Linked DNA regions of Homo sapiens: regions 1 and 2 are each reported to be linked to region 3. The links are microRNA targets in miRTarBase. Many come from high-throughput screens and were not tested one by one. Region 3 holds a microRNA gene; each other region holds the end of a gene's coding sequence.
The links. Region 3 holds the annotated microRNA hsa-miR-1273h-5p (CUGGGAGGUCAAGGCUGCAGU, at 4,242-4,262, opposite strand). A microRNA usually pairs through its seed, bases 2 to 8, with sites in the 3' UTR of a target mRNA and lowers its output. Matches are read on the target gene's strand: a 7mer-m8 pairs with bases 2 to 8, a 7mer-A1 pairs with bases 2 to 7 and ends in A, and an 8mer does both.

Region 1: the mRNA of TLCD2 is a reported target of hsa-miR-1273h-5p. Seed matches in the 3' UTR shown: 7mer-m8 at 2,282-2,288, 7mer-m8 at 2,507-2,513, 7mer-m8 at 2,533-2,539, 8mer at 2,546-2,553, 8mer at 2,682-2,689 and 7mer-A1 at 5,224-5,230.
Region 2: miRTarBase lists TOMM20 as a target of hsa-miR-1273h-5p. Seed matches in the 3' UTR shown: 7mer-m8 at 3,543-3,549.

The regions. Positions count from the first base shown.
Region 1 is chr17:1,702,015-1,709,210 of GRCh38, reverse strand. It overlaps TLCD2 (TLC domain containing 2), which reads left to right. Exons shown (of 4, transcript NM_001164407.2): 4 at 989-6,395. The coding sequence ends at 1,441. Among named protein-coding and RNA genes, the nearest start is that of TLCD2, 4.8 kb to the left of the region's middle.
Region 2 is chr1:235,105,916-235,113,078 of GRCh38, reverse strand. TOMM20 (translocase of outer mitochondrial membrane 20) reads left to right here. Exons shown (of 5, transcript NM_014765.3): 5 at 971-3,738. The coding sequence ends at 1,015. Among named protein-coding and RNA genes, the nearest start is that of SNORA14B, 18 kb to the left of the region's middle.
Region 3 is chr16:24,200,214-24,207,409 of GRCh38, reverse strand. MIR1273H (microRNA 1273h) reads right to left here and starts at 4,294; the gene lies at 4,179-4,294. The region is part of intron 16 of PRKCB (protein kinase C beta); the gene reads right to left.

The sequences.
Region 1 (7,196 bases), not on the chromosome of region 3:
CTCCATGTTGGCCAGGCTGGTCTCGAACTTCTGACCTCAGGTGATCCGCCCACTTCAGCCTTCCAAAGTGCTGGGATTACAAGCATGAGCCACCGCCCCCGGCCCTCTCTTCATTTTGCTGTCCTATAATTTCCCACAGTCTCTGCCCCCAGCTGGTGCTTGGCTCCCAGTCTTAGGCTGAGTTAGGGGGAGGAGGTGGCTGCTGGCCACAGCTGGGGAGTCCAGATACCCACCAGGCCAGGGCACCTACCATGCCAGGGCACTCACCATACAAGGGCACCCACCATGCCAGGGCACCCACCATGTGAGCCTAAGGAGTTTGGGTGCCCCCACAGGTGTCCAGCTGATCACAGAAATGTGGAATATGGAGCTTTTCTGAGAAGGGGGTGTCCTGGTATAGGGTGTGGGTATGGGGCATGAAAGCCCTAGGCCAGGCACGGTGGCTTATGCCTATAATCCCAGCACACTGGGAGGCCGAGGCGGGTGGATCACGAGGTCAGGAGATCGAGACCATCCTGACTAACAGTGAAACCCCGTCTCTACTAAAAATACAAAAATTACCTGGGTGTGGTGGCGCGCACCGGTAGTCCCAGCTACTCTGGAAGCTGAGGCAGGAGAATTGCTTGAACCCAGGAGGCAGAGGTTGCAGTGAGCCAAGATCACACCACTGCACTCCAGCCTGGTGGCAGAGTGAGAGTCTGTCTCGAAAAAAAAAAAAAAAAAAAAAAAAAGCAAGCAAGCCCAGGAATGGGAGGTTAAGGGGGTATTAGGGGGTGAGACAGCCCCTCCCTGGGCCAAGCCTGGTTCCATCTATGGAAGGGTTGTTTCAAGGCTGCTCAGGGCCCCAGGATAAAGGTAAAAGCATAAAGGTCAGGTGTTTGGGGAGCCCCACAGACTGCGTGGAAGCCTCTTTCTTCAGGCCTGGGTTATTGGGACATGATGGCTGGCAGGTCATGGGGTTCCTCTGACCTGTGACCCTGGCTCCCAGGTGGTGAGCTGCCTCAGCACCGCTGTTCTGTCTGGCCACTACGTGGGCTTCTCCATGGTGTCTCTGCTCCTGGAACTGAACTCTGCCTGCTTGCACCTGCGGAAGCTGCTGTTGCTTTCTCGCCAGGCCCCATCCCTGGCCTTCAGCGTGACCAGCTGGGCCTCCTTGGCCACCTTGGCCCTCTTCCGCCTGGTCCCGCTGGGGTGGATGAGTCTGTGGCTGTTCCGGCAGCACCACCAGGTTCCTCTTGCTCTGGTCACCCTGGGTGGAATTGGGCTGGTCACTGTGGGCATCATGAGCATCATATTGGGGATCCGTATTCTGGTCAATGATGTCCTACAGTCTCGACCCCATCCACCCAGCCCTGGCCATGAGAAAACCAGGGGGACCAGGACACGTCGTGACAATGGACCTGTCACCAGCAACAGTTCGACTCTCAGCCTGAAAGACTAGAGAGAAGCCATGGGCCCCTCGCTGGGGGAGGTGGGGCCAGGACAAGGAGATGAGGGTCTTCCATGCACAGTCCCCCATCAGGGTGAGGGCCAGACTTGCTCATCAGAATCTCAGTTTCTCTTCCAGCTAACTCACATCCCTTCCCCTTCCTCGGATCTAAGAAGAAATGCTGATGTTGGATGGGTGGGAACCTGGGTTTCTGTTCACTGAAATCCGTCATCAGATGAGCATCCTTTCCAGCAAATAAACTCAAGAGGTACAGCTAGAGCTATCAGTAAAGGGTGGCAGGAGGCATGCAGCTGGAAGAAACTGCCAGTGGAGACAGAAGCTCTTTGCTTTAACCCAGGGACAGATGGGGGAAGGTGAAGTCCCACTAGGATCAGAGAGATCTGGTATGGGGCGGGTGGGGACAGAGAGAAAAGAGATCTCACCTATAACCAAATTCTGGCAGTGGGAGGAAGGTAGAGGAGGTGCTATCTGTAGCAGCAGAGATGGACGTGATAGTTGCCAAGAGACAGAACCTGGGCCACAGCAATTGCTGCTGATGTTTCTGGTTCTCAAAGCCACACTCCTGTTTTTCTTTTTCTTTTTCTTTTTTTTTATGAGACGGAATCTTACTCTGTCACCCAGGCTGGAGTGTAGTGGCACGATTTCGGCTCACTGCAACCTCAGCCTCCTGGGTTCAAGTGATTGTCCTGCCTTAGCCTCCCGAGTAGCTGTGACTTCAGGCATGCACCACCAAGCCCAGCTAATTTTTGTATTTTTTGGTGGAGAGGAGGTTTCACCATGTTGCCCAGGCTGGTCTCGAACTCCTGACCTCAAGTAATCCACCTGCCTCGGCCTCCCAGAGTGCTGGGATTACAGACGTGAGAACAGGCGCACACTCCTGTTTTTCTCCTTAACCCTGGTCCTGCTGTGTCTAGCCTTTTATTTTTATTTTTATTTTTAGTATCTTTTGACTTTTCTTTTTTCTTTTCTTTTTTTTTTTTTTTTTTTGAGACAAGTTCTTGCTCTGTTGCCCAGGATGGAGTGCAGTGGCTTGATCTTGGCTCACTGCAATCTCTGCCTCCCAGGCTCAAGCAATTCTCCTGCCTCCCACCTCAGCCTCCCAAGTAGCTGGGACTACAGGTGCACGCCACTGCACCAGGCTAATTTTTGTATTTTTTTGTAGAGACCAGGTTTTGCCATGTTGCCCAGGCTGGTCTCAAACTTTTGCACTCAAGTGATCCACCCACCTCAGCCTCCCAAAGTGCTGGGATTACAGACGTGAGCCACCGTACCCGACCCCTTTTGACTTTTCAAAGACAATTCGGATTCTTAGAGGAATGAACACAGGGCTGGTTTGTCTTCTTAGGACGGCACTGAAGTCTAGAATTACAGAAGGAAAGGTGCCCAGTACAGAGTTTTCCCAGGCCCAGGCTTTCATGGAAGAACAAGGGCAGAGGTAGACTGTGTGAGAGAAGGCTGCAGGAGGATAAAGGAATAGCTGGCCCTCTGGCTGGGCGCAGCAGCTCACGCCTGTAATCCCAGCACTTTGGGAGGCCGAGGCGGGAGGATCACCTGAGGTCAGGAGTTCAAGACCAGCCTGGTCAACATGGTGAAACCCTGTCTCTACTAAAAATACAAAATTAGCCGGGCATGGTGGTGCATGCCTGTAATCCCAGCTACTCAGGAGGCTGAGGCAGGAGAATCGCTTGAACCCAGGAGGCAGAGGTTGCAGTGAGCCGAGGTCGTGCCACTGCACTCCAGCCTGGGCAAACAGAGTGAGACTCTTGTCTCTAAAGAAAAAAAAAAAAGGAAGAGCTGGGACTTTTCTGAGATACATTCATAAAGTCTTCTTCCTCCCTGCTGCTTCTGCTGCGTTTTTTTCTGTTGAACAAGACCCCTTCCTTCCCAGAACATCGAGGTGACGGGAAGTGCCCAGCAGATTAAGTCTGCTGTTCCACTAAACAATGGACTGAGAGAGGCAACCCTTAGCCATCCACAGAAAAGCTACATGAGCAAAAGCAAGAGACAGGAAGATTGTCTTCAAAAAAAAACAAAACAAAACAAAAACCTTGCTAAGAAGCGGAGGTACAGAAAGATACGAAGAATGACAGAGACAGACATACATAGATTGAGTGATAGATAGAAAGAGAGAAGGATTATTCACATAGAGGTGACAGAGGCAAAGAAGGATGGAGGGCAAAAGAGACAGGCCCTAGCAGAAATATGGAGAAAGGCTGTCATAGATCCTGAGAGACACCAAAGTCACAGAACTGATAAAAGGGTTATAAACAAAAAGGACCAGAAAAATAGAAATGAAGGCCGACAAGAAGAGACCCCAAGGCTGAAAGGCACAGAGAGTCTAGACAGTGAAATAGAGTGAGTGACAAGGAGAAACACCCAGGCTCAGGAGTGATGGAGGAAATACTGGCAGATAGAGAGATCAGAAGAGCAAGAGGAGAGGTGGGAACAGAGAAGAGCGGGGACGAGTCCGGGGAGCTGAGAAGCAGAAGGCGGAGGAGGCAGTCAGTGGGAAGATTCACTGACAGAAGAGACCAGGAGATATGGGGACTTGGAGGCAGGCAGAAAGACAAAGGACAAACAGCTGCAGCGCAAACCCTAAAGACAGGCTGACAGTAACCGGTCGGCAGAGACTGGTAGGAAGATAAGGACAAGTCAGAATCAGGGGTGTCAACTGAGATGCAAATATAGGCAAAGGAGCTGACAAAGAGAATCACAGAGAGAAAAAAAAGGAGGAGAGCACAGAACAATTTAAATATCCAGGCTGGGCATGGTGGGTCACGCCTGTAATCCCAGCATTTTGGGAGGCCGAGGCAGGCGGATCACGAGGTCAGGAGATGACCATCCTGGCTAACATGGTGAAACACCATCTCTACTAAAAATACAAAAAATTGGCCGGGCGTGGTGGCAGGCGCCCGTAATCCCGGCTACTGAGGAGGCTGAGGCAGGAGAATCGTTTGAACCTGGGAGGCCGAGGTTGTTATAATGAGCCGAGATAGTGCCACTGCAGTCCAGCAGGGGTGACAGAGTGAGACTCCGTCTCAAAAAAAAAAATTGAATATCCAAAGAACAAAGAAGAGGCAGGAACCCAGAAATGAAAAGAGGAGGAAAAATACAGGTGTGAAAAAAAAATGAGAGGGATTGTGAGAAGTCTCCATCATAGAGTCATAAAAACAGGCGCAAAGGATGAAAATACATCGAGACTGAGGAAAACACAGTTGGAAGGAGCTAAACACAAGCAGAAAATAAGAGCAGAGCATTTAAATGTAATTAGATAAAAACCCAAGAGGCAAAGGTATAGATAGTGAGCTAGAGAAACAATGCAGAATTTTGTCAGAGTCTGTACTTCTAGAAGTCATGTTTGCTGGCTGGGCATGGTGGCTCACGCCTGTAATCCCAGCACTTTGGGAGGCCGAGGTAGGAGGAGTGGTTGAGCTCAGGAGTTCAAGACCAGTCTGGGCAACATATTGAGACCTCCTCTCTACAAAAAAAAAAAATTTTCTTTTTTCTTTCTTTTCTTCTTTTTTTTTTTTTTTTTTTGAGACAGTTTCATTCTTGCTGCCCAGGCTGGAATGCAGTGGCACAATCTTGGCTCACTGCAACCTCCACCTCCTGGACTCAAGTGATTCTCCTGCCTCAGCCTCCCTAGTAGCTGGGATTACAGGTACCCACCACCACACTCGGCTAATTTTTGTGTTTTTAGTAGAGACAGGATTTCACCATATTGGCCAGGCTGGTCTCAAACTCCTGACCTCAGGTGATCCGCCCACCTTGGGCTCCCAAACTACTGGGATTATATGCGTGAGCCAACACACCCGGCCAAAAAAAAATTTTTAATTAAAAAAAAAAGTCATATCTGCAAAACTCAATTTGCCATCTTAACTGAATGCCTTGATTAACAAAAATGTTGTCTGCCTTGAGTTTTTAAAGAAAAAGAAATATGACAAACTCATGTGAGGAATCTATTCCTTAAATATCTGTTGAGGTTGATATGAATTGATTCTAAGTCATACACCTTTTCTTTGGCCACTGGTATACATTCATGATGGTTTGAGTGAGTGTCCCTTTTGGTAATACTTGATAGTGTCTATGAGGCCGGGCGTGGTGGCTCACGCCTGTAATCCCAGCACTTTGGGGGACCGAGGCAGGTGAAATCCCATCTCTACTAAAAATAAAAAAAATTAGCCGGGCGTGGTGGCGGGCGCCTGTAGTCCCAGCTACTCAGGAGGCTGAGGCAGGAGAATGGCATGAACCCGGGAGGCGGAGCTTGCAGTGAGCCAAGATCGTGCCACTGCACTCCAGCCTGGGTGACAGAGCAAGACTCCGTCTTAAAAAATAAATAAATAAATAAATAGACAGATAGATAGATAGATAGTGTCTATGAAGGCTGCCCAAGAACTTGACCATTAGGGAAACATGGCTGTTTCTGTGGATTAACTAGTCAAGCCCATACAGGAAGAGTGAGGTCAGCTCCCAGGTGGGGCAGGATGTAGTGGACGCTTGGAAGAATTTGGGACCACACACGAATTGCTACCATGGTGAGCCAGTGAAACTTGAGGAAGGCAGGACTGGATTGTGATTACAACTGAGTAAGTAGGCAGAGAATTGGAGTGTGGGCAACATAAAGATGATGTGAATCAAAGAAGAATGGTCAATTAAGACCCTAAAAAAAGGACGTTCAAAAATGCAGAGGTTAAAAAAAAAAAAAGCAGAGATTGCCAGATGCTCCATTTGGTAGGAGTCTGCTTAGCACAGTGGTGCTTCGCCAGACTTTACCGTGGCCCAGGGAAATGGTCCTCAAGACGGACTCCATGTCTACCAAGCTACTTGCTAATGATTTCTTTGTCCTCCAGGACAGGGAAGGGGCTTTTCTGGATGGGATACATTGATATTTTATGGCCTTGAAACACTATCCTGATTATAAATTAATAAATTGCTATGCAAATAATTGCATTAGTTGCATCAATCTCTTATGAGCGTGGTTACTTTGAGTTACTTTTTGGCTCCAATGGTGTCCTGATTTACAATTCGATGCTAGATTGTGGAGGCTTTGCCTTGGGAAAGTTTCCACCCTGACGTGTCCTGATACCCTCTATAATCAAAAAGCAACTCCTGGCTGGGTGCAGTGGCTCATGCCTGTAATCCCAGCACTTTGGGAGGCTGAGGCTGGTGGATCACTTGAGGTCAGGGGTTCGAGACCAGCCTGGCCAACATGGTGAACCCTCATCTCTACTAAAAGTATAAAAATTAGCTGGGCGTGGTGGCAGGCGCCTGTAACGCCAGCTACTCGGGAGGCTGAGGCAGGAGAATCATTTGAACTCAGGAGGTGGAGGTTACAGGGAGCTGAGATTGCACCACTGCACTCTAGCCTGGGAGACAGAGCAAGACTGTTTCGAAAAAATAAAAAAAGCAAATCCAGTGTCAGGCGAGTTGGTTGATTCCTGTAATTCCAGCACTTTGGGAGGCTGAGGCTTGGGCCCAGGCGTTCAACACTGGCCTGGGTAACATAGCAAAACCTCATCTTTTTTTTTTTTTTTTTTTTTCTGAGACAGAGTCTCACTCTGCCACCCAGGCTGGAGTGCAGTGGCTCAATCTCAGCTCGCTGCAGCCTCCACCTCCTGGGTTCATACGTTTCTCATGCCTCAGCCTCCCGAGTAGCTGGGACTACAGGCGTGCACCACCACACCTGGCTAATTTTTGTATTTTTAGTAGAGACGGGGTTTCACCATGTTGGCCAGGCTGGTCTCGA
Region 2 (7,163 bases), not on the chromosome of region 3:
AAAACAGTGAATGATGATAGGAAGTATTTACAGAACTTTATAGTTAGTAACTGACTGGTTAATTTTTCAAACTGATTTTTACTCAACTGAATTAGAAAAGGACTGGAAAGAAAGTAAAGATCCCAACGACTTGAGGGAACAAGTTGGACAACCAAGGACTTTGTCTAAATTGTTTTTATTTAGACTAATGTGGTTCTAGTTCTAGAGGATTCATACTGGAATCATCGGTTTAATATTACGCTATTTGAAAGGCAGCATAGTATAGTACTTTTGGAAAATTGGCCTGAGGGTGATGTCTTTTGGAATATTTGTGAATTCACTATGAAGCCTAATTCCTTAAAAATGACCTCCTTCACTCAATTATCAGTGTTCTTGGTTTGCCTGGGAGTGAAAAGAGATCTTAAAATCTTTTTGGTTTTAGTTACATAATTGACTGATGTAATATTATGTAATGATGGCTGTACACAGTGTCTCATGCCCTATAATCCTAGCACTCATTTGAGCTCAGGAGTTCAAGGCCAGCCTGGGCAACATGGTAAAACCCTGTCTGCACCAAAAATAAAAAAAAAATTAGCCGGGCATGGTGGCATGAGTCTGTGGTTCCAGCTACTCAGGAGGCTGAGGTGGGGGAGGATCGCTTGAGCCCAGGAGTCAGAGGTTGCAGTGAGCTGAGATTGTGCTACTGCACTCCAGCCTGGGTTACAGAGACCCCATCTGAATTAAAAACATATATAATGTAATGATCTGCCTCCTTTGTTAACTTGACTTTTGAAATGGGATTGTCAGTAGTATGATCATTGTTTTCTTGGATGCCGACTGTGTGTAAAGTGTTACATTTTGAATTAAATGTCAGAATGGGTGAACTTTACTAAGATTCAATTCTTTGAATACAAAGAGCATTTTATTTTGAAGTTAGAATCCTAATTAAATGCTTATGACACTTTAAAAAATTATTTTTTTTTTCTTTCAGAGAATTGTAAGTGCTCAGAGCTTGGCTGAAGATGATGTGGAATGAGAAACAAATGTCAACATAATAAAATCTCAGTTAAAAATATTTTAAAAATTCTTGGTAGTTGAGCAGCTCTGGGGGAATAAGGGCAAATATGCTTGTTATGAACTACACTGAAATCTACCAAAGTTAATGTTTACTTTGTGTAGATCCATTTGTCTATTTTATTTATTTTTCCCAGTGAAAAGTGTATTTTGATAGAGAACTTTTCATTCTATAAATACACTATGAGTTACTAAAATATCATGGATTTTGTTTATTCCTGAAACATAGTTACATAGTTAAACTGTACATATGACATGGCTTATGTTAAAAATACCCAGTGCTCAGTTTTGAAAGATAGGCAAAAAAAAAAAAGTATAGGAGAAACTGAAGAATGTACACTTTTTTAGAGGGCACATTTTGCTGTAAATCTGGAAATTTGATAGACTTGACTGTGTTTGTGAAAACTGAGCATTAAAGGTTTTGATTGATCCTTTCTTTCCATTTAATCTCTGAGACGTAAATATGTGAGGTGTGCTGCTGTGCTGGGTTAACAGCTTCCTTCCCTTTCTGTGTAGCAGTCTTGAAATGTTCTGTTTAAATCAGTAGGCTTAATGTGTTCTGGGTATTTATCTCCTTGTATTTTAAATATATGTAGTTGCAAATAGCACCAGGAATTAGATTTCTGTACACCCCTAATCTAGCCTTGTGAGCTTCGCTAGTTAATGTGTGCTCACTTTCCCTCCATTTGTTACGTGAGAGAATGCGTCTGCTGATCACTGAAGTGTCCCTTTTAGCTTCTGATTCATTGGGTTCTGTTGGGCATCTTTAAATCCACCTTAACCTGAGGAATGTATGTGGGCAACCAGGCCCTGCATTTTTTTATATTCTGAATTTTGCATGCTTGCCTGACTTAGTATTTCTGAATTGATGTTTTTTTTAATGGTATAACTATCTTGATTTTCACTGAAATTATATGGTTCTGTCACTACTCTGTAAATTAATCCGAAACTTTTAAGGTAACTGGGATGATCTGCTTGTAAAAATGCTTGTTGCCTTTTGCTTTATCTTCAGTGTACCTCCTTAATCCTGCTTCAACTTGATTATCTTGTGAAACGATGAGAGTAAGTTGCAACCTTGTGACTGAAAACTTGAAAAGAGTGGAGCAGGTGGGACCTCTTATTCTCAAATAGTGACATATTCTCCGTAGTCACAGTTTCAGAACTGAGTAAGGATCCTTGGTACTTGGTGGCATCTGTTGAACTGAGGAGCATTTCTCATTGTAAAGATTGCCTTTGTTCTGTCTAAAAGTCTGGAGAAATCCCAAAGACTTTTCCTATGTACTAGGCATTTTATTTTGATTGACTTACAAACTCTTCTTAATCATTATCAATCTCGGTTTTTTTGTGGTGCAGTGGAAGGAGAAATAGGTCTAGTTTCTGCCTCTGATTAGCCGCACAGCCTTGAACAAATCACATTTCATCTTTGAACTTACCTCTACTGTTAGACTAGGCGACTCACATTTGAGGACTTTTCTCGGGTATCTTGAGGGTTTGTGATCCTGAACCCTTAAACAGTGCTTTTTTGTTACACAGGAGGGCTTTTTTGGGGGGATGACCAGTACAGACATGCCAGTTAGTTTTACTAGTGGGATCCCAAATCCAAAGCAGTGTAGTGGTGATTGGTCAGTGACTAACCAGGCAGCTAAGAAGTCTTAGGCAGCAGCCCAGACATGTATAGAGGGGCAGTTAGAGGGAGAACAGGGGTGGGAAAGGGAGCAAGGGGCAGATAGCTCAGCAAGGAAAGAATGGGCTCAGAAAAAGGAGGGCTGGCTGGAGGAGTGAGGGGCAGCTTAAGTTTGGGGAGGGTAGAAACGCCGTTTCCTTGGGAACTGGAGTGCAGTATGAGCTGGGTGTCACTTGGCTCTGAACATACTGGCTTTGCTGTAATGCTTGAAAAGGCGTTGGTATCTTCATTTTACAGTTCATTAACCCAAGTACGTTTTCTTATTTAAATGACAACTTTGGTGCTTTAAAATGAGGTACCACTTTTTAAAGCTAGCTGTGTCGAGTTAAAGAAAAAATCAGCAGTTTTTTCTCCCAGAAATGTAATTGCCAAACACTATTCATCCCCATCTTAAGTTTTACAAGGTGATGTAATCAGCTTGTTGTAGTGATGCTGGCCAAATGGTGCTCAGCAGGTGAGAACAAAAAAACCCCAGATCTCAGTGAACTAATACACAGCTTGAGCGTTTCCATGTGCTAATGTTGCACACTTACTAAAAAACTTTGGAAATGGAAAATAATGTATTAGTGCAACAGTTGATGTGCTTCTTTGGGCAAAGATATAGTTTTGTTCCACAATTTGTACTTAAAAGCGAAAGAACATTGAAAACATAGACTTACTGGCTGTAGCAATGCTGGCCTGTTAACTGATAACTAGAACTTAGGTTCACGTTTATGTAAAGTGTGTAAAACCTAGTAGAGCTTGCATAGTCGGCACTCAGTAAATGTTTGGTTCCTTTTGCCCCTTGGTAAGTTTATTTTACCATCCTCCCACCTGCCATTCTGACTTTATTAAATCAACATGTGGACCAGAGTGTTAATGAGATGTTATTGCAGAAGAGATTGAGAAAATTGGTATATCATGCAGATAACATACAAAATCTTTTTGTAACGTAAAAAATGCAGTTTTATTATTGCTTGTGCCTCAACTGTTTAAGTGAATATTAAAGGGCTTGGAGAAAACTTTGGCTTGGCGTATGTTTGGAGAAGTGAACTCTGCTGAATTTATTGAGTCTAAAGCTGTGGGTTTTTTGTTGTTAACGTCTTTGAGGATGTCTAGGGCCGCAGGCTTCCCTGCCAGAAGAATGCACATTTGCTTCAGATTCCAGGTGAAGAAAATCCCTGTGGTAGTGTCAGCGCCTGAGGGCTTCCAGGTGGTGGTGGGCCCAGCGTCAGGAGATAGCAGTCACCTGGGAGGCCCGTTACAACAGGTTCGTGAGAGGAGCCCAGTGGTGGTGGTGCTGACGTGCGAAACATGAAGGCTTGTTAGAGAAACCAGCTGTGTTAAGGTGACAGAATGTGTACGTTAGCACTGTAAAAAGCAGCTAATTGGTAGCAGAACGTGCTAGCTGAGAATACGTTGTATTCTACATCACTGATAATGATCTGAAGTGTACAAGTCATCAGTATCAGATCTATGAGAGTTTTTGTAGTTTTGCTCTAACATAAATTTCTCTTTGCCACCTCCAAAGTTATTATATTAATAGTAAAAGTAATGCTTTGGAGAGGGTGGAAGGGGGTATGCCCTAGCCTCCACAGCTCCTGCCACAAACTGCCCAGATAAGCAGGACCTGAGTGTGTTGAAAGGCTGAGTTGAAGAGCAGATTGACACAGGAGGGCTGGAATGAACGTTGGCTAGAGCAGGTGTGTCCAATCTTTTGGTTTCCCTGGGCCACACTGGAAGAAGAAAATTGTCTTCAGCCACACATAAAATACACTAACACTAACAATAGCTGATGAGCTAAAAAAAAAAAAAAAAAAAAATCATGGTGTTTTAAGAAAGCTTATAAGTTTGTGTTGGGCCACATTCAAAGCTGCCCTGGACCACAGGTTGGACAAGCTTGGGCTAGAGCCAGAGGCCATGGGAGACAGGATGCAGGGCAGGGAGTAGGGCCTCTGCCAGAACTCCTTAAGCCAGGTGCCATGCTCACCTGTAATCCCAGCACTTTGGGTAGGCCAAGGGGTGGGAGGATCACCTGAGGCTAGGAGTTCCAGAACTTGTCTGTTTTGTTAGTCTCTATTGCCCAGGCTGGAATGCCTCTCAGGTTCAAGCAATTCTCATGCCTCAGCCTCCCAAGCAGCTGTGGTTACAGGCATGCGCCACCACACCCAGCTAATTTTTGCATTTTTCATAGAGACGGGTTTCGCCATGTTGGCCAGGCTGGTCTCGAACTCCTGGCCTCAAGTAATCCACCCTCCTCGGCCTTTTAAAGTGTTGGGATTACAGGCGTGAGCCACCCTGCCTGGTCAGAAGACCCCGTCTCAACAAAAATGTGAAAAAATTGGCTGGATGTAGAGCACACCTGTAGTCATAGCTACTCACGAGGCTGAGGTGGGAGGATCGCTTGGGCCCAGGACTTCGAGGCTGCAGTGAGGCGTGATGGCACTGCTATACTCTAGCCTGGGCAACAGAGTGAGACCCTGTCTCATAAAGAGAAAAGACAAATTTGCTCCTCTTTTAGCTCAGCCAAGAGATGCTGTTTTATCTAGAAGCTTCCCCTGGTGTCTCCATTCTTCCTGGGTGATTTCTCCCTCTCTGCTTTCAGCAGCCACCTGTAGCTGATGACTTCCTCCTGTCCCACTTCTTTCCAGCCTCACTGCCACTATTTTAGGTAACCCAGAGTTATTGCAGGTCCCATCGCCAATCCACACAGCTGCCTGAGGAATTGATCTGAAACATCATGTCCCTCGTATGGCATCCGAGGCCCTCATAATCTGGCCTGATTAACTCCGATCTCACCTCATGTGCCATCCTTCCCCCAAATGTGCCTTCCTCTTCAGCTGTCCTCCTGCGGGGCTCCCTATGCCTTGGGCAACTGTGCTTACCACCCCAGATAGCTGGATGAACAAAATAGTCCCTGATTTTACCATCTCATTGAGAGAGTCTTAATGTAGCCGGCCCAGGTCCAGGGTTCTGTGCCCCATGTTGATGATGCTGGTATCTCCATTCCTGGGATATTCCTATGGCATTTACCAATGTCTACTGTCACTTCCTGGTGACTTGTCCATCTTTCCTACCAGACAGCTCCCAAGGCATGTCTTACTGACCATCGGATTCCCCAGCATAGAGCATAGTTAAATGCCTAGTAAATAATGAATGGAAATCCAAATGAACAGAAATGGGATTTTTCACCACAAAATTTAAAAGATTCTTTGGGATTACACATGCCAGGTAAGTGGAAGGAAAGAAACATTGTGAGGAGTAATCTATTTTAAAACCCACTTAACTCACTTGGTTATTAGAAATAGTGTAAGTTTGAGAACAGGAGAAGGGAAGGGATCTATTTAGCTTTCTGCATATTTCTTGATAGCCTCCTAACCTAACAACAAAATGCCAAAAAAAAGCAAACCTGGCAGCCATTGAAGAGCATTCATAAAGGTTTTTGTTTTGTTTTTTTGAGACAGTCTGCTCTGTCGCCCAGGCTGGAGTGCAGTGGCACAACCTTGGCTCACTGCAGCCTCCTCCTCCCGGGTTCAAGCGATTCTCCTGCTTCAGCCTCCCGAGTAGCTGGGATTACAGGTGTGCACCTCCATGCCTGGTTAATTTTTTGTGTGTTTTTAGTAGAGATGAGGTTTCACCATGTTGGACAGGCTGCTTTCAAACTAAAAAAAAAAAAAAAAAAAATTCTGAGATGGCCTTTTAGAAAAAACCCAAAAACATAATTAAGAGTCATTTTGAACCACCCTTTCATGGAAACTTGCCAAATACAGGGATGACTTAGGTGTCATTATAGTTCAACATTTAAGGGTGCTCTGTGGCCCCGTCTATACCCTGCTTTTCCCAAACCTTTTTAAAAGACAGGATTGTTTTGTTTCTTAGCTTTCCCTTGAGCTAGATGAACTACAGATCAGCAGTCCAGGTAGGCAGCTTATTCAGAACTTTGACGACTTGGAATTTAGTCTACTTTCACAGGTGACAGATTTTTAAAATTCACTTATATTCAGAAAAAGAGGCCAGGCACAGTGGCTCATGCCTTTAATCCCAGCACTTTGGGAGGCTAAAGTGGGCGGATCACCTGACGTCAGGAGTTTGAGACCAGCCTGTCCAACATGGTGAAACCCCGTCTCTACTAATAATACAAAAATTAGCTGGGCGTGGTGGTACATGCCTGTAATCCCAGTTACTTGGGAAGCTGAGGCAGGAGAACTGTTTGAACCTGGGAGTTGGAGGTTGCAGTGAGCCATTGCACTCCAGCCTGGGCGACAAGAGTGAAACTCTCTCCAACAAAACAATACAAAAAAAAAAAAAAAAAAAAAAAGGATGCTGGCTAAAATAACCATGTCTTTACCAAATGTTGGATGGCAGAAGACAAGACTTTCCAAATCTTTAGCTACTCAGATACTGTTAGACATTCTTAGCTCAATTTAAACACTGTCACTAAATAAAA
Region 3 (7,196 bases):
TTTTCCCCTTTATGCTTGATTATATTTTAAAAATTTACATAACAATCAGGTATTGTTATTATTATTTTGTAATAAGAAAAGAAGCTGTGAAAGCTATTTTAAATGAGACAGCAATTATCATGGAAGAAATTGAAAAATAGAAATAAAGAGAATGGGAGTATTTGGGTAAATTGTTAAGGTTAGCCTGATGCTACTTTAACATGCTTCATCTTAGTAAAACACTCTAAGGCAGCAGGAGGATCGCTTGAGGCTAGGAGTGTGAGACCAGCCTGGGCAACATAGCAAGACCCTGTCTCTACAAAAATTTAAAACTTCTCAGGGCATGACGCCACATGCCTGTAGTCCCAGCTACTTGGAAGGCTGAAGTTGGAGGATTACTTGAGCCCAGGAGGTTTAGACTGCAGCAAGCTATGATCGTGCCTCTGCACTTCAGCCTGGGTGACAGAGTGAGACCCTGTCTCAAAACAAAATGAAGCAAAAAAACTCTAAAACAAGTGGCTGCTTTGACGTGTATTTTGGTGCTAAGGGATAATAAGGAAGGCTAATATTTGGCTGTTGTAGATCCTCTGCCGAGCAGCATGCTGGACTCTGGCGATACATAAGAGGGTACCTGTTCTTGTCCCCGTTGAGCTTAAGATCTAGCAGAGGACACAGATGCACACACAGGCCACTGCATGGGACCATGGGACAGGTGCTGCCATTGAGCACAGAGGAAAGGAACCCAAGAAGGGCCAGGAACTCTGTCTGGAGGGAGTGACATCTCACTTGAGTGGGACCTGCAAGAGAGACATTGCTTCTTTGGAGGAGGAAAGGAAAGAGCCTGGAGAAGAAATGGAGGTAAAAAGAGGGCATGGACAAGGTAAGATGGTGGAGGAGAGGATAAGGCTCCTCCCTGCTGTCTGTTGCCTAGCCGACTTTGATAACATGAGGCTAGTGGCTCAGGGGAGCTACCTGCCCAGCCTCCATCAAGACACCAGGACACCTTCAGGTTAACAAGACCAGAAGGTCACGATGAAAAGACATCCAAGCTACATAGCCTAGGCAAAAAGACAAGCGCATCTTTCTTTTTCACATGTGCACATCCAGTGAAATGCAGGGTCGTTCCTATGCCTTCCAGTTTCCCACAGCCGAATACAGGAGGGACCCACTCCAGGGAGAATCAGATGCTCAAAGCTGCATACATATTTGATCATTTTAAAAAGTCATTTGTGGTCTGGGTTTTGGCAGAAAAAAAGAGAGATTTAAGTCTCCTTTTTCTGCTAATAATGAAGGTCCCTTACAATCAGGGATCTTTTATCTCTTATGTTTATTTAGGGAGGAAGTCAGTAGGAGAGGGGTCTTTTGTGTTTGATACTAAGTCTGTTTTGTTTTGCTCTTGCTTTTCTTAATTTTCATTAAAAAATAACATCCAGTGTTTTGATTTCCTCCAGATCTCAGTTTAAATGGCACCCTGTCAGAGAAGCTGTTCCAGACCACCTTCAAATAAAGAGGATTCTCATTCTTCCCTCCTGTTATTCTCTGTCAAGATATCCTGTTCATTTCTTTAACAGAAATAAAATCTGGTATATCTCAGTCTATAATTATTAATACATGTTCATTCTCTGTTGATTGTCTATGTTCTCATCTAGACTGTAAGCCACATGAGAGCAAAATCACATCTGTTTTATTCACCACTGCGTTTCTAGAACCCAGGGATGAAAAAAAATCAAATGGACAAATAATAGTGTATGTTAAGCACTAACTATGAGCCAGATACTGTGTTAAGTGTTTTGCAAGCTTTACCTCCTTTAATCCCCCCAAAAGCTCTATGAAGTCCTTGCTGTGCAATGAGAAAATGGGTTTAGTTTAAGTATCTGACCACGATTTGATCCTAGATTTGACAAGAGATCCAGACTCTTCTATCAGTCTCCTACATTTATCGCAGAAACAAACAAGCTATTAAAAAGCACCAAGATGCCAGGCATGGTGGTGCCATGCCTATAATACCAGCACTTTGGGAGGCCCAGGTGGAAGGATCACTTGAGATCAGGAGTTTGAGACCAGCCTGGGCAACATAGAGAGAACCTGTCTCTACAAAGAATTTTTTAAAAATTGGCCAGGCATGGTGGTGCATGCCTGTGGTCCCAGCTGTTCAAGAGGCTGAGGCACGGGGAATCCCTTGAGCCCAGGAACTGGAGGCTGCAGTGAGCTATGACTGTTCCACTTCACTTCAGCCTGGGTAACAGAGTAAGACCCTGTCTCTAAAAAAAAAAAAAAAAAAAAAAGGAATTATAATAATAATTTTTTTTTTGAGATGAAGTCTCACTTTGTCGCCCAGGCTGGTGTGCAGTGGCACGATCTCGGCTCACTGCAACCTCCACCTCCCGGGTTCAAGCGATTCTCCTGCCTCAGCCTCCCAAGTAGCTGGGACTACAGGCACCCATCACCATGCCCAGCTAATTTTTGTATTTTTAGTAGAGACGGGGTTTCACTATGTTGGCTAGGCTGGTCTCGAACTCCTGACCTCGTGATCTGCACGCCTTGGCCTCCCAAAGTGCTAGGATTACAGGCATGAGCCTCTGTGCCTGGCCATAAAAAATTTTAAAACACACAAAAGAATCCTTCTTAATCCCGCCACCCCAAATCTCTGTATTATGTTAACATCTTGGTTTGTATCCTAGATGGCTGGATGAATAGATGAATGGATGTTTTTTAGTTTTTAGACAAAGGTGGAATCATGACTCTGTTCTTTTGCTTGCTTTTTAAAAGAAACTAGATGAAATACACTCTAAACATCTTCCCATGTCAACAGAATATCATTTTTTTTCTTATCTATTCTTCACCATTCATCCTAAACCCACATTGTTGGCTTCAAGTAAACTCACCCTCAAATAGTAATTATCCCTTCTATTTGCCTATCTTTTTATAGCTTTGATTCCCACAAGGCTGTGAGATAGGCAGGAAAAGGATTATCTCTACTTAACAGATAATTTTAAGAGTTAACAGTTTGTTCAGGGTCATATAGGGTCAAGTAGGAGAGCCAAGATCCAGAGCCCATCTGTTCAATTCCAAAGCCCATGGGCTTTCCATTACATCCCATTGCCTCATACTATGTATCTGATTGTGTGGCACGGACTTAAAAGTTAAGCTAACCTGGGTACCAATCCTGGCTCCAACAATTCCCAGCTATACAACCTTCAAGCAAGTTAGCTAAGTCCCCTAAGCTCAAGTTTCTTGTAGGGTGTGGCGAGAATGACTTGATAAAATTCACATCAAATACTTAACATGGTAGCTGGTGGTTACTGCTGAGGGCTGACTGACCCATTCATGTCCAGTGAGTAAGTCTGACAGGGCTGTGCTCTGGCTTGAAAGAGGTCCTGTACGCTCTGCCAAACCCTAAATTCCTACCCATATTCCCATCCCAATTACAAGCAGAATGAGGACCTGCCAGTGCTACTTTAGACATAGAACAGAAACCTTCCCACTTAGCCTGGTGCATCACGGCAGGAAGCTACAAGACAAAGCCAGGCCCTGGGGCTCCCAGTTAGAGGAAGTGAGAAAAAGACGTGTACCCTGGGAAGAAAAAGGGATGCATTTCCGTTCCCATCCAAGCCTCACTTCCTTAGAAAGACATTTCAGGTAGATTAACACACCATCTCTGTGCTGTTTTCCATATGCCATTTGGGGGGGCATTTTGTGGTTATTTTTAAGAGACTGCACTTGTAACAAAACAAAAAGTAAGCTTTCTGTTTTCCTTTCTGGGTCATGAGCTGGTCTCAACCCTCCAAATTCAACTGTCACTGGAAGTCTTTGTGGAGTTGGAATTTCTATTGGGAGTGGCTGTGAAGGTAGGAAGAACATCAGCAAATGTGGTGATATGGTTTGAATGTGTTCTCCCAAAGTTCTTGTGCTGGACACTTAATCCCCAATGCAACAGTGTTGAGAGGTGGGAACTTTTGGAGGTGACTGGATTGATGTTATTATTGTGGGAGTGAATTTATTTAAAAAGTAAGTTACCCTCCCTCATGTGTTCTCTTGCCATGTGATGCCTTCTATCAGGTTACTATGCAGCAAGAAGGTCCTCCCCAGATACAGCCCCTGATCTTGTACTTCCCACCCTCCAGAACCATGAGCCAAATAAATTTCTTTTCATTGTAAGTTATCCACTTTTTTTTTTTTGAGACAGGGTCTCACTCTGTCACTCGAGCAGGAGGATTGCTTAAGCCTGGGAGGTCGAGTCTGCAGCAAGCTGTGACCACGACACTGCAGCCTTGACCTCCCAGGCTCAAGCAATCCTGCCTTAGTCACCCAAGTAGCTGGGACTACAGGCATGTGCCACCCCACCTGGTTGATTTTTGTAATTTTTGTGTGTGTAAAGACAGATTTTGCCATGTTCCCCAAGCTGGTCTCAAACTCCTGGGCTCAAGCTCAAGTGATCTGCCCATGTTAACCTCCCAAAGTGCTGGAATTACAGGCATGAGCCACTGCACCAGGCCCCAGTTTCAGGTATTCTTATAGCAGCACAAAACAGACTAAGACAGACACACAATGTCATAAAAATGAAGGAGAAGAGGGGCTTAAAAAGAAAGAAGGCACTCTGAACTTTTCCTACAGATAAACTCACTTATATAGGAAACTAGGAAGTTATTCAAAGGGTGATGTAGAGTTAGATAAGCAGATAAGAAACAATCTCCAAGACAGAGGGGAATAATGCAAGATACAGAAATTGTACACAGCATGCTAACATCCTTGTGTGTGATGTAGACTATTTCTGGGCCTGAACACATCTTCTCTAGAAGGTCACACAAGAACCTGGTTGCAATGGGTGTCTCTGGGAAGGAGAACCAGGAAGCCTAGCTAGGAGCCATGGGTGAGGGGAATCTTAATTTCACTTTGTAGCTTCTGATGCTGCTTGAATATTTTATTTTTTCACATTTTTTTAAAGGAGAAAGGATTAGAGCACCTAATAATATGGTGAGGTCAAGAAAGATGAGACAAGCTTATGAGAAGAGGCAGTTTTCAGGTCATTGATGACTCAATGAGAAAAATATCAATAGGATGGCGGGAGCAGAAGCCAGATTGCACCAAACTGAGGAAACAATAAATTGTCATCAAGTGGAAATAGCAGGAACTGGCAACTCTTTCAAAAGTGTGTTTGTATGCAAAGTAAGGTAGGGTAGTAATCATAGCAGTAGTAAGAGTAGTAGTAAGGAGGATTCCCAGGTTTGAGGTAGGGGATTTTTAACATGAAAAAGACATAGCAGGTTTATGCACAAAGGAGAAGGCCAGGATAGAGTCAGAAAGGACAGCTGCTGTTTTTGCCCAGCCAGCAGGCATTGTCTTTTCTTCTAGTGACAGTGGCTTTATTTTTCTTTTTTTCTTTTTTTTTTTTTTTGAGACGGAGTCTCGCTCTTTTGCCCAGGCTGGACTGCAGTGGCGCTATCTCAGCTCACTGCAAGCTCCGCCTCCTGGGTTCACGCCATTCTCCTGCCTCAGCCTCCCGAGTAGCTGGGACTACAGGTGCCCGCCACCGCGCCCAGCTAATTTTTTGTATTTTTTAGTGGAGATGGGGTTTCACCGTGTTAGCCAAGATGGTCTCGATCTCCTGACCTCATGATCCACCCGCCTCAGCCTCCCAAAGTGCTGGGATTATAGGCGTGAGCCACCACACCCGGCCATGACAGTGGCTTTTTTTTCTTAAAGGAGATATTCCTTCTCTTCTTTCAAAATGTCTGATTTAGATAGGACATTCCTTCTCTTTTTTCAAAATGTCTGGATTAGATCCAGCTCTCTGGCTAAGAGGGGCTGGTGACCCAGGCCCGGTCAATCAGCACATTCCATCCCCCTGGTGCAGTGAGCAATTCCCTTAGAGATGGGCATATGACCCAATAATCTTCCAAAAAGATTGAGTCCTAGGCTGCTGGGATTTTATAAAAAGGAAGCCCTTTTCTTTGGTAGAAGTTGCAGAGATAATGGGACATAAATTGGGAGTTGCTATGTGCCCAAGAAAGCCTTCTGAGAATGAAGAATGAAGTCAACACAGTGGGGAAAGTAATCCTAAGGGATATAGATAAATGTTTCCCTGCTGGCATTGTTTGGGACCAGATGTAGATGATCCATCTACATCTGAATACTAACTATCATTATTTTTTGCTTAAAAGTCAGTTTAAATCAGATTCCTATTTGAAACCATAGGAGTTTTGTTGATACAGAGAGAAGCTGTAGACAGACTAAACAGGGGAGATAAGCATGAAGGATCAAGAGGCTGGAGTCCAGAGCAGGAGTGAGGGTAAGTCTCACATGAGTTGGGGGAGGGAAAACATATTTGCTAAGACAGAGATGGAAGCTGGGCAAGGAGGTCAAGATGACTATGGAGGTGCCGGTAGGTGGTAAGAAGCTGACGGCTACCAACCAGTGGCACCCATGGGCCTCAATCTTCCTCACGATTTAGGGCAGGGATCCCCAATCCCTGGGCCATGGACCAGTATCAAAATAACAATAATAATAATAAATAATAATATAATAGTACATGACTCAAAGTCATGTATCTGGTAGGTTCTATGGTTGACTTGCCCCGCCAAAGTTCATGTGTTAGAAACTGAATCTCCAATGCAACAGTGTTGAGAGGTGGCACCTCATGAGAACTTAACAACATTATCTTGGTAGTGGGATCCTAATAAAAGGGATGAGTTTGGCTCCGTATCTTTCCCCTGCATGTGCACACACATGTATGCATATGCATATATATGCACACACATGCACGCATACTCTCTCTTGCCCTTCACCTTCTGCCATGGGATGACACAGCAAGAAGTCTCTCACCAGATGCAAGCCCCTCACCCTTGGACTTCCCAGCCTCCAGAACTGTAAGAAATAAATTTCTTTTCTTTATAAATTATCTAGTCTGTGGTATTCAGTCATAGCAACACAACATGGACTAAGACAGAAACTGATTTAGGAACTTCACCTGGCTCAGGAACCTGACAATTCCAACCATCTAAAGGGAGCCTGGTTTGATCTGAAGTTTAAATGGGTTCTCCATGGGTGTGTAGATAGGTGGAGAGAGATAAACAGACTCCAAGCTGTGTGTCCTAAATGGCTCTTGGCTATTTGTTTGTCAGTATATAAATGTAGGTTGATATTTTTATTAAGATCTCTGCAAACTCCACACAGTGGATACCCCAAAAGAACAACCAGAAATGAGCAGGGAAACCTCT